Regions from separate parts of the Homo sapiens genome. Here region 1 is linked to region 2. The links come from fine-mapping of genetic effects on gene expression. A gene starts in region 2. The other region holds a variant in brackets. All regions are shown on one strand. Distances are between the middles of the regions. Region 1 overlaps LOC124908062 (a long non-coding RNA gene). Region 2 holds the start of NABP1 (nucleic acid binding protein 1).

Region 1 (5,383 bases), 32 kb after region 2:
CATTAATATCCATCTTTTTGAAAAAGTGGCAATAATGAATTAGTGACATACACACTTTGAGCTTCCCTTTCCCCACACCCAGCCTAGGCAGTGTCAGAAGTATAGAGCAGTATGGCTATTTTTCCAGCTGACCTTCCTAGTGGTCTAAGCTCCTTATTAGCTTCAGAGCTGCTGCTGTCCTGCTTCATCTGTCTTTTGCCCTGAGTTGGGGACTACGGCAGAGTGTAGGTTTCCAACTGTTAATCGAAACTTGTCATGTTAGGTGCAGTGGTTAAAATCATCAGCTTTCTGGTCTCTCAAGCCAATCACGTTCCCATTTGATGGAATATTCCAGTGTTGAGCATCACCAAGATTAACTACTTTAGCCTAAAGCTCCCTTTGGCCTGATAGAAGACAGTAATACATATACAGATTCATTTTGAGTGATTGTACAGATTAAGTATTCAATTTTTTCCTAAATAATAAGCTAACATTGTGTTAGATTTGAAACAATGCACAAGGCCGTATTGTGTTTGATTAACCTTGACTGTGGGTGCTTTTGTAGCTTAGGCAGCTGGTTTGAACAAACTTGCAAATTCACAGCCTTACAAAGAAAGTCATTAATTTTTTATCATTTTATAAAGTAGGAACTTTGTATGTATTTACTGATAATGAGGGGACATATGTAGGTTGACATAATTTATTGATACTTTATTTCACATTTGAGTTTTGTGACCAAATACTTATAAATAACATCCTGGGATGTACATATTTTCTCACCTATAGTATTTTTTCTTAGAATAAAATCAATGAGAGTGTATTGCCACTGAGACTTCTGAAAAAAGCAACTAATAGTCGTTAAGACTTTGGAGGCTGAATTTTGGCTTTGCCTCTTATTAGCTGTGCAACCTTGAGTAAATCACTTACCCTCTCTAAGCTCAATTTCTTGAGCTTAAAAACGGAGACAATATCACTTGCATGTTAGGGTTGTTCTGTATTAATTGAAATAACCTATGCAAATTGCTTAGGCCAGTGTTGGCCACATAATGAAGCACTTAATTAGCATAGCTATTATTATTATTTCTAGAAATAGGATTGCTGGCTTAAGTGTATGTAAAAATATTGATGCATATTGCCAAAGTTTATTTTAAATTTTGAATATAAAGTTGTGGGTCTCATTAATGAACATATTATAGTAAGAGGTAATAGGCATGTCCACAAATGCAAGAAGCTGCTCCTACTATTCACTTGTTTGTTTTCTCTGTTCTGTCTTCTTCTTATAACAGCACCTTGGTTTTCCTTTGGAGAAACACCTTGCTCCCATTCTCAGTCCATGTAGTTCAATGGGGTTGATCCCATCCTCTGGCTTCAGAAGGGAGCAAAAGTATATGAGGTGGTCCTGGGTAATAAAAATATCATACCCGACTCCGCTCCTGGACACAGTGATTGGCTCAGTAATAGGCATGTGACTTGAGCTGGGCCAATGAGAACCCACTGTAGGATGTTTACTGACTGATTAGGAAACTGTCCTCATCCTTTTACATCCTTAGCATCCTTAGGAGATGCTAATCTTGTTGACCATCTTTGCTCCCATACAGAAAAATTCTTCTGGGGAATAAAGCATAGAGAAATGAAGAGCTAAGATACAGAGGAGCTTCCCAAGACCATGTTTGAACATTTGTAAACAGCCATGCCTGGACTTCTGAGTTAAACGAGTCAGTATATTTCCTTTATTGCTCAAATCACTTTTTGTGTTGGGTCCTTTTTGAAAGGTGGCCAGATCTGCCCAATCATATTATGCTCCTCAAGGACACACCCTGTGTGAGGAATAAGCAGGGTTTCTACCAAGTCAACTGTCAGAGTGATTTACCTTCCATGATATTTCTGAATGATGGTAGACTCAAGTTAATGTGAGTTATGTGATGCCTGTCTGTCATTGGATGAAGATCTACACTGGACAGTTTCAGGTTTCTTTCTAAACCATGACTGAAGCCATAGATTACCTGATAACCAACCATGGTTCTATAAATGTCTGTACGTGTCTATAAAAGTCAATGCAGAAAATTAAAAAAGAAGTCTGGGTCGGGTGCGGTGGCTCAAGCCTGTAATCCCAGCACTTTGGGAGGCCGAGGTGGGTGGATCATGAGGTCAGGAGATCCAGACCATCCTGGCTAACACGGCAAAACCACATCTGTACTAAAAAAAATACAAAAAAATTAGCCGGGCATGGTGGCGGGCGCCTGTAGTCCCAGCTACTCGGGAGGCTGAGGCAGAAGAATGGCGTGAACCCAGGAGGTGGAGCTTGCAGTGAGCCGAGATCGCGCCACTGCACTCCATCCTGGGTGACAGAGGGAGACTCTGTCAAAGAAAGAAAGAAAGAAAGAAAAAATCCGAATGGGCTGTTAAAATGAAAATCTGCA[C/T]ACTGCATCTATTGGTACTAATTTCAAAGACTTCTTTCCTGTAGGTTTGCATTGCAAAACATAAACATTGCTTATATTTGATTTTTTCATTTGTCCATAGTGATTATACAAAGGCTGATACAGAGCACCCATGTGGAGGGGTCACAGAAGGTAAAGCCAAAACATAACATGAAAACCAAATATGGCAGGGCTTTGAGCACCAGTACAAGGCATTTGCATGTGATTCTTTGCAAAATGGAGAGTTGTTAAAAGTTTTGAATAAGGACGCTTCTAGAGGATTAATAGGGCAATAATATGCAGATGAGCATAAAAGGGAAGAGACAGATGCCTGTTATTGGGCCATTGCAATATTTCAGAATGAGATAAAGAAGTAGGGCAATGGGAGTGAAAAGAAAATGATGGATGGGAGAGACATGGAGAAGGAGGAATAAATAAGAAGACTTGGCCTCCACAAGAATATGGGGCACCAACGGAGAGAGAAAAGTGAAAGATGAGCATACAGTGATGTTTTAAAAAGTGAGTTTGGGAAACTGCTTTTGTTCAGTGGAGGAGCTTGCGGAGAAGATAATGAGTTTAGTTTTATACGTATTTGAGCCCTTTTCTGTTTGGCTGTCAGCTCTCCTAGAAGCTGAATGTGGTATGTAGAGTGGGATGTAACCATGAGGTTACCCTGGAACTCAGAAACTGCTATAGCTATAAAGAGAAGTATGAAAAGTAACTTAAAGAACAACGACCTTTATCCATAGCCTGGCATTGTCTTAACATATGTAAAGAAAAAATGGCTTCTTTAGGAATTGTTTGGTAGTGAAATAAAGAAAATGGTGAGTCATGGAGACAAAATTTGGCAGTTCAACAAGAGCACCATTTAGTGGCATGCTGCTTAGGTCTGGTGTGATTGCCAGATGTGGCCCAGTGTGTTGATGGATGGATGCACCAGTCTATTTTAACCTTATGCCACTTCATCATTTGTTCTAATTTTATCCTAACCAAATCTACCTTCTAATTATACTTTGGTTCCTCATCTAGTTTCTAGGGCAGAAGAAAAATTCCTTGTGAGTAGCAGATCCCTTTACATTGTTTGTTATTAAATTGTCACTTCTGAGTTTCCACAGTGTTGAGTCATCACCCTCACCATTTATCCAACCCTGGGGTGCAGGCAAGACTGAATTTCCCTCTTTATAAGACTGTAGTCCAGTCTCTGCCTGGGGGTGACCTACCAGGTCAAGGGCTCCCTGCTAAGCCCGCATGGTAGATAGGTGACTGACCTTCCTCCTGATATGTTCTGGCTTTTCCATGACCACTTCTGCTCTCTAACGCCAAACATACCAGGCAACCACGCATTCAACAACAAGGCCTCTAATTTGCTAGGAGGGTTGTCACAGACTGCAAGGATTAACAGCTAGAACATTTTTCCACTTGGGGAACTTGAAGGCACCACACAAATCCTATTTACTTCATTCACTCATTTGTGTGTGTGTGTGTGTGTGTGTGTGTGTGTGTAAAATCATAAAGTTATTCTTAATCGCTATAGGAAAAAAAAGAGAAACCAAACAAACAAACAAAAACTGTTAATGTCCCTATGCAGAGGCAATATGCACTTTGCCTGCATAGTTTGCACTTTTGCCTATTTCTTCCTAGGCAATTTCATTTCTACTTTAAATTTATATGAAATTTTAAAAGCTTTATTATCTGGTTCTCAATACCACTGTAGATTAGAAGTAGCAATTTAGAGAAAGAGAAGAAAAAGAAAAGTCATAAAAAGTAGATATAATTTTTTAAAGTGAAGAGTGCTCTGGGGTCACACACAGCTCAGTAATCCTGAGGTCAGTCACTGCATTGTGACTGATGTAATAATACATTTATATCTTGATGACCTCAAATTGTCATTAAATGGTTAAATTAATTTTGGTATATATCTTTTAAAAGTCAGAAATACAAAAAAATACACTTTTCAACTATATTGTTCAAACTGGTTAAAAAACATAAGAAGTGAACCCTTAGCTGTCTAGAAAACCTAGCTACAGAGAATTATTCCTTTTCACTGGGTTACAAATAAACAAGATCCTATAGTTAAAACTACTGGTTTCTTCCCAGTATCCATTCCACCATTCTTCTGCTATTTAGAAGCCATGCTCTTGGTGGGACTGACCACACCTCTGGCTCCAGACATAGGCTGTACTTGGCCTAAGCTACTCATGATAATCACATCTGCCTGCCAGAGTAACTAGTCCAGGAATGAGCCTGTAGCCATGCCGTACACCAACAGCTCATAGCATTTCTCTGATCACAGGGATCATACATCTGCAAATTGGGGTAGACACTGGCCCCAATTTATCAGTCAGAATAAAACCCTTAGCTTCTGTTCGGTGGCTGTGGAAGAGAGGCTCTCTTCCATCATCTGAGATGCACATTTGAGTCCTGGAACTACAGCAACAATTATCTTACCATGAAAAAGCCTGCCTGAGAATTAAAGCAACCCATGGAAGACAGCAGAGCTGAGGGAGATAGAAAAGAAGCCAGAATCCTGAAATCTACTCTATATCTGGGCTTGAGTCAATAATTGTCATCTGTGTTTAGGCTGTTTTGACTTGCAAGAAAGCACAAATGTTGTACTGTGCTTTGATGGAGGTGATGGTAGGCCATCAGCAAGTACATGTCCGGCACTTGTGTTACGGACATGCATCTAAAGTTCAGGACACCAACTGAGGATGGGCTTGAGTAACATGGAGGGAGATGGTAGCATGCCACACAGGAGCTGCTCAATATGTAAATATTAATTGAGTGTGTTTTGAGTAATCAGAATGGGTTGGGACTTGCTGGGGGAAAAGATAAGATGGAGACTAGAGATCTGAAGACTGAAAAGTCACTTAGGATCGGGAGAAGTGGGAACTAGTGAAGGAGGCTCTGGAGTAGATAGGAAGTGAGCTCTAATATTGCCACATTGTTGTGCCTAATGAGAGAAGAGAACTGGTGAACTACAATGT
Region 2 (5,350 bases):
TGTAAAATGCCTGGCCCATAGCAAGTGCTCAGTGTATTTGCATTTATCACTATAGGGATGATTTGTGTGGCTGTTGCTGCAATCATTACTAAACATTACTTCTGAGTCTTTTGGTTAAATTGTTTTAGGGAAATTAAGAAAATACTATTTGTTTGAGTTTTTTTTTTTTGTTTTTTTAGTTGCCAATTATGTTACAAAGTGGATTATACCTGTAAGGTGAGTGAGCACACTGTGGTTCTTGTTAATTTTTTAAATTGTTAAGTTTCACTATACAAGATATTTAAAATCAAACAGTACTTGGTACAAACAACTGTTTCATTGATGTTGTAATAGTTTTAAATAGATGGATAGTGAAAACAAAGTGAAAATAATTTTGGTAATTCCAGAAACCAAAACCTGGGAGTGAGCATGGGTACTGAGTGCTGGGTAAAATTTACAACAAAACCTTTATCAATGAGGACCCAGATAACAGAACCTTCTATGTCCAGGATTCTAATGGATGCCCTTCTGTATTACAGTGGATCTCACTAAGCATCTTTACACTAAAACATGGTGTTGAGGTTCTGGATGTAAAGTGGAAGAGTCCATCATCTCAGAGTAAGCTTATGTTTAGGCTGTGAAAAATGAAGGCTTGAAGAACAACAGCCTTAGAGAAAAGAAGACCATGAAGTAATCTTGTGTATGTATTAAAGAATCAGCAATATAATCATTATGACCTAAATGAGTAGACTGAGTGGCAGATCTATTTCACTGAATGGTAATATAAGAAAAGATATCTGCCTAGCAATAATTGTCTCCTTGACATCTCCTTTTTCTTTTTATTAACCACATCTTTGGGAGTGATTTAGAGGTAGCTGAAACCAACTAGCCTGGGCTGAACAGTTTCTGTATTGCCCAGACCATCTTGTTTCTCAAGGCTGCCTTTCGTTTTGGTTAATGAGAAAGCATATGGTTGCCATTTCCTTTCTGAGAACTGCTGAGTTAGTAGGGAAGGAAGTAGATGTTCAGCTGAGTTCTGTCCTGTGGGGGAAGGGAAGGGCTGAGCCACAGCTTGGAGTACCAGCTTCTGCTTTTGTGGGGCTTGATTTTCTGTGTCTGATTTCTTTTTATAAAATGTTCATATAATTAGCCTGAACAGCCCAACCTAATCCCTTTTCTGGGGGCAAATGATTGAGAGTTGAGTGGCAAACTTTCTTTGCCCAAACTCTTGGCCGTAACTCTTAACATTCTTAATTGGTTTCCTGTCTATTCTTAATCTTTTGAAGATCTTGTCAAACCTTAAAAAAAAAAAAAAAGAGCTCTGCCTTAAATATTGCTTCTGTGAGAATATTTTGCCTGTTTAAGAAAATACAGCTTTGAGTACAATCCAATTGAAGTGTCAAGTCCTGCCAGATAACCATGGTAGAATTAGAGCTTCTGAGCTGGATTGGGATTGAGGTTGGACGCTGGCTCTGCCATTAACTGGCATGTTTCATCATTTGTTTTATTTGATGTTGAAATTATGCTTATAATTTTATTTTACACCACTTTCCAGTATGACATCAGTGTCTTTGGCACCTTGGGCTTTATTAGTTCATGAAATGGAAGCTTCTGTTTCCTTAAAAATGCCTTGACTCTCTTGCTAATGTTGTGATAATGTTTCCAACTCTTTCTAGGGCTATAATATCTATGCTGCTTGTTTGCAAATACTTGGGAAGTGGTGGTTGATCTAAAGATACTCAGAAAGAATGGGGAGAAAATTAAGGCTTCTGACACTTTTCCCAACATTTCTGTTATCATCACCAAGAATTAACTAGATGATTCTTTAATGCCCCACTACTTTATTCTGCTATTTTATTTCTTCAGTCTGTTTTTGACTCTTATAATGACACCACTGGAAGTTAAGTCTAAACATTACCTTTAGGCTGGAGAGCTCTGGGGTCAAGATTGACTAGATTTAAAACCCAGCTCAGCCATTCTCTAGCTATCTGGTCTCTGGTGAGTTCCATCGCCTGTAAAACGGGGATTAAAAAGGGGAAAATACTGAGTATGTACTATTTGCTAGGCACTAGTTGGACAATTTATGATCCATTTAATCAATCTTCTGCTAGGCAGGGATCCCCATTTTATTATGGTTAAAAAGCTGTAATAAAAGCCAATTGACCTAAAGCTCTCACAAGTAAATAGCTGGAGCCCAGGTTTGTCTCTAAAGCACATGCTCTTTTCACTACGCGACATAAAAAAAACTTTATTAATCTTTTTTTCCAGATTATGTTTCAAGGGTTCCCACTGCTGTTGAATAATTAATTCCTTTTAGATGTACAAAAGCAAGTGCAAAGTAAAAGAAGAAAAGCTAAATGGGGAAGGTGTGTAATATGAGAGGCAGGGGGTAAGGAAAAATGAGAAGTCTGCAAAGGAATTTACGTCCTATCTGCTTAGCATTACACAGTGGAAGCCCACGTCAGACATTTGTGTTGCAGTCCTGCCTGCTCAGGGGTTGCTGGGTGACCTTCTGCAAATTACCTCATCTTTCTGGGTTTCAATTTAAGTATGCCTGAAATGAGGCGGTTGAATTGATCTCCAAATTCCCTTCTGGTGCTAAACTTCCAGCCTTGTAGCCACTGACGCCTTCACCATCCCAGCCTGTTTTCCCTTGGTACCGGACCAGCTGCCCTTGCCCGAACCCTGTTCTTCCTCGACTGCGAACTTTCTAACGTACTCACAGGTTCTAAACTCTACCGTTCCTCGTGACCGAGGGACTAAAGGGCCCGGGCAGGGGCTCAACTCTGAGAGAAAAAAAGGCAAGAAAACTCCAAAGTTGGACAGCAAGCGTCAAAAGACTGCACAGCAGGAAGGCGAAACCGAACAGAACTGCTGCTGCGCGGCGACAGCTGAAGTGGGTGGAGAACGGGAGGGCGGGGGAGGCGGGGCCGAGAGCGATTGGAAGGACGAGGGGGCGGAGCCCGCGCTGACAGCCCCCGGGGAGGAGCGAGGGAAGCTCTGCGGGCTGCGGCGGCCGGGTCCCGCCCCTTTGCTTCCCCTCCCCAGCACCAGGCGGGCGTGGCAGCAGGCGTGCCGACGCAGCGTGACTTCACAAGGGGAGGGGCGGGCCGAGGGTCCTGCCGGCGCGCGGGCGTGTTCATCAGTCGCTGTTTGGGACGCTGGGTGTGCGGTGTTCTGTCTCCGCTCCCGTTTCGCTGTCACAGCCCGTTCCTTCCCGGAGCCCGGGACAGGCTGGGCGCGCGCCCGTGTGAGTGAGCGGGACTCAGGGCAGAAGTGTCCCCTCACTGCGTTTTTTTTTCCTTTTATCCAAAGAACGGGGCAGTTAGTACGCTTGCCTTCCTGTCGCCCGGTTGGGAGCGGGGTTGGTGTGCGGAGTGGTTCGCCTTTTTTTCTTTAGAACTTGTGAGCCTTTTTTTTTTTTTTTTTTTTTTTTCTTTTTTTAGGCTCAGTGCTGTCCGGGCTGGTTTGCCCGGTCCCTGACTAACGGCTTTCTGCCCCTTCTCTCGCCACCCCTGCCCAAGGTCGCCCCTCTGCCTTCGCCCCTGTCCCGGGAGGGTGGGAAGCTTTGACCCCGCCCTGCCCACTCGCGTCTCCGCAGCCGTAGCCGCGCCTGTCCCAATATGAATAGGGTCAACGACCCACTTATTTTTATAAGAGATATTAAGCCCGGACTGAAAAACTTAAATGTCGTCTTTATTGTCCTGGAGATAGGTAAGTGGGGTTTGCAGCCTACTCCACCGCCCGCTGTGCCTCCCGGGGCGGGAGACAGGGGCGCCGGCCGCTGCGCGCCCGGGGCTCCCCTCCTCCTCCCTCCCCTCCCCCACCCACGTGGCTCTAGTGGCCTCCGCCCGAGATCGGATCCTACCTGAGGCGGGAGCCCTGGGCTTGGTCACTTCCCACCTTCCAGATGTATTAAAATACCGGAGGAGGAGTTAGCCTTTCTGGATGTCCTCATTATCTAACAACCCCTCCCTTTGATTTTTAAATCCTCACAGGACGCGTGACCAAAACCAAAGACGGCCATGAAGTGAGATCGTGCAAAGTAGCAGATAAAACGGGCAGCATCACTATTTCCGTGTGGGATGAGATCGGAGGTCTTATACAGCCAGGGGATATTATTCGGTTGACCAGAGGGTAGGTGTGCAAAAAAGTCGGGGGACCTAACAGTCTGCAGAATCGGGATTGGCCGGCTCCTGGGATCTTGGCAAGCCCTGAAGTCCCCCGCCTTTTCTGTGGGCCACTCTTGAGGAGTTTTGAACTCCTTTGGTGTTAACTTTGGGTGGTGGGCAGCGCTGGGATGTAACAGACCTTTGCAGTGAAAGGCAGTCGGTTTCAGCTGGGAAATCCGCGCCTCTACCCCGGTTTACAGGTTAAGTAGATTTTTAATTATTATTATTTTTTGGGACCGAGTCTCGCTCTGTCGCCAAGCTGGAGTGCAGTGGCGTGATCTCTCCTCACTGCAGCCTCCGCCTCGCGGGTTCAAGAGATTCTCGTGCCTCAGCCTCCCAAGTAGCTGGGACTACAGGCGTGTGCCACCACGCCCAGCTAAGTTTTGTATTTTTAGCAGAGACGGGGTTTCAGAGTGTTGCCCAGGCTGGTCTCCAACTCCTGACCTCAAGTGATCCGCGCGCCCCAACCTCCCAAAGTGCTGGGATTACAGGCGTGAGCCACCACGCCCGGCATAGATTTTTAGTTCTATTCTGAGTCAGTGAGTCTTTTTAGGAGACTGGTATAGTCCATATTTTTTCTTTTTTATAAGTTGTTTTCTCTAGTGTAGTTGCCACTCAGTTGTTTCCCACCCCTTCTCCATTTTTAATGACTTGAAATCCTGGCCAGTATTTTACATATGTTATTTAGAAATGTGGACATAAATGAAAATTATAGGTAAAGGATTTAGCATATTCTGTGATATGTCAAATTTGTACTTGGAAAAAGAGGGAAACTTTACAGTATCTGGAAGGCTCATTCTCCAAAATGATTTCTTGTGTCTTCTGCTGTAAGGTGGATGTTGCGCAAAAACCAAAGGGATACACAGAAAATGTTTGGCAGAAAGGCATCTACAATACCTTCATCCAAAAGAGTCAGTTGGCGGATAGGTGGCTTTAAAAAATACTAGAACTTTTTTTTTAAAAAATAGATTGCTTTTAGAAATTTACCAAATTTTTATCTTAGGAAGATAAAAGGGCAGAAAAGGATCTTAAAAACAGAATTTGGAAGCTTTTGAGATCAATAAAATTGTAATAATTTATCATTAACTGCAGGGAAAGTGGTGGAGATTGATGTTGGCCTAATAAGTAGAATCTTAGAAGTATTGGAAAGCACTGAGAGTAGGAGCTTAGAGCTCCTTGGTGTTACCTTGCAGGCTTAC

What was found. PIP is the estimated chance that this variant, and not a neighbour inherited with it, causes the effect.
Region 1: its variant is fine-mapped to the expression of NABP1 in whole blood (INTERVAL, PIP above 0.99).

What each region holds. Positions count from the first base shown.
Region 1 is chr2:191,707,235-191,712,617 of GRCh38, forward strand. LOC124908062 (a long non-coding RNA gene) reads left to right here. Exons shown (of 6, transcript XR_007088698.1): 2 at 1,578-1,694; 3 at 2,500-2,549. Among named protein-coding and RNA genes, the nearest start is that of NABP1, 32 kb to the left of the region's middle. The variant C/T (reference allele first, on the strand shown) is at 2,400.
Region 2 is chr2:191,675,013-191,680,362 of GRCh38, forward strand. NABP1 (nucleic acid binding protein 1) reads left to right here and starts at 3,124. Exons shown (of 6, transcript NM_001031716.5): 1 at 3,124-3,693; 2 at 3,978-4,116. The coding sequence starts at 3,603. RefSeq lists silencers at 731-1,025, 2,816-3,165, 3,766-3,825 and enhancers at 973-1,082, 2,676-2,755, 2,965-3,467, 4,295-5,350.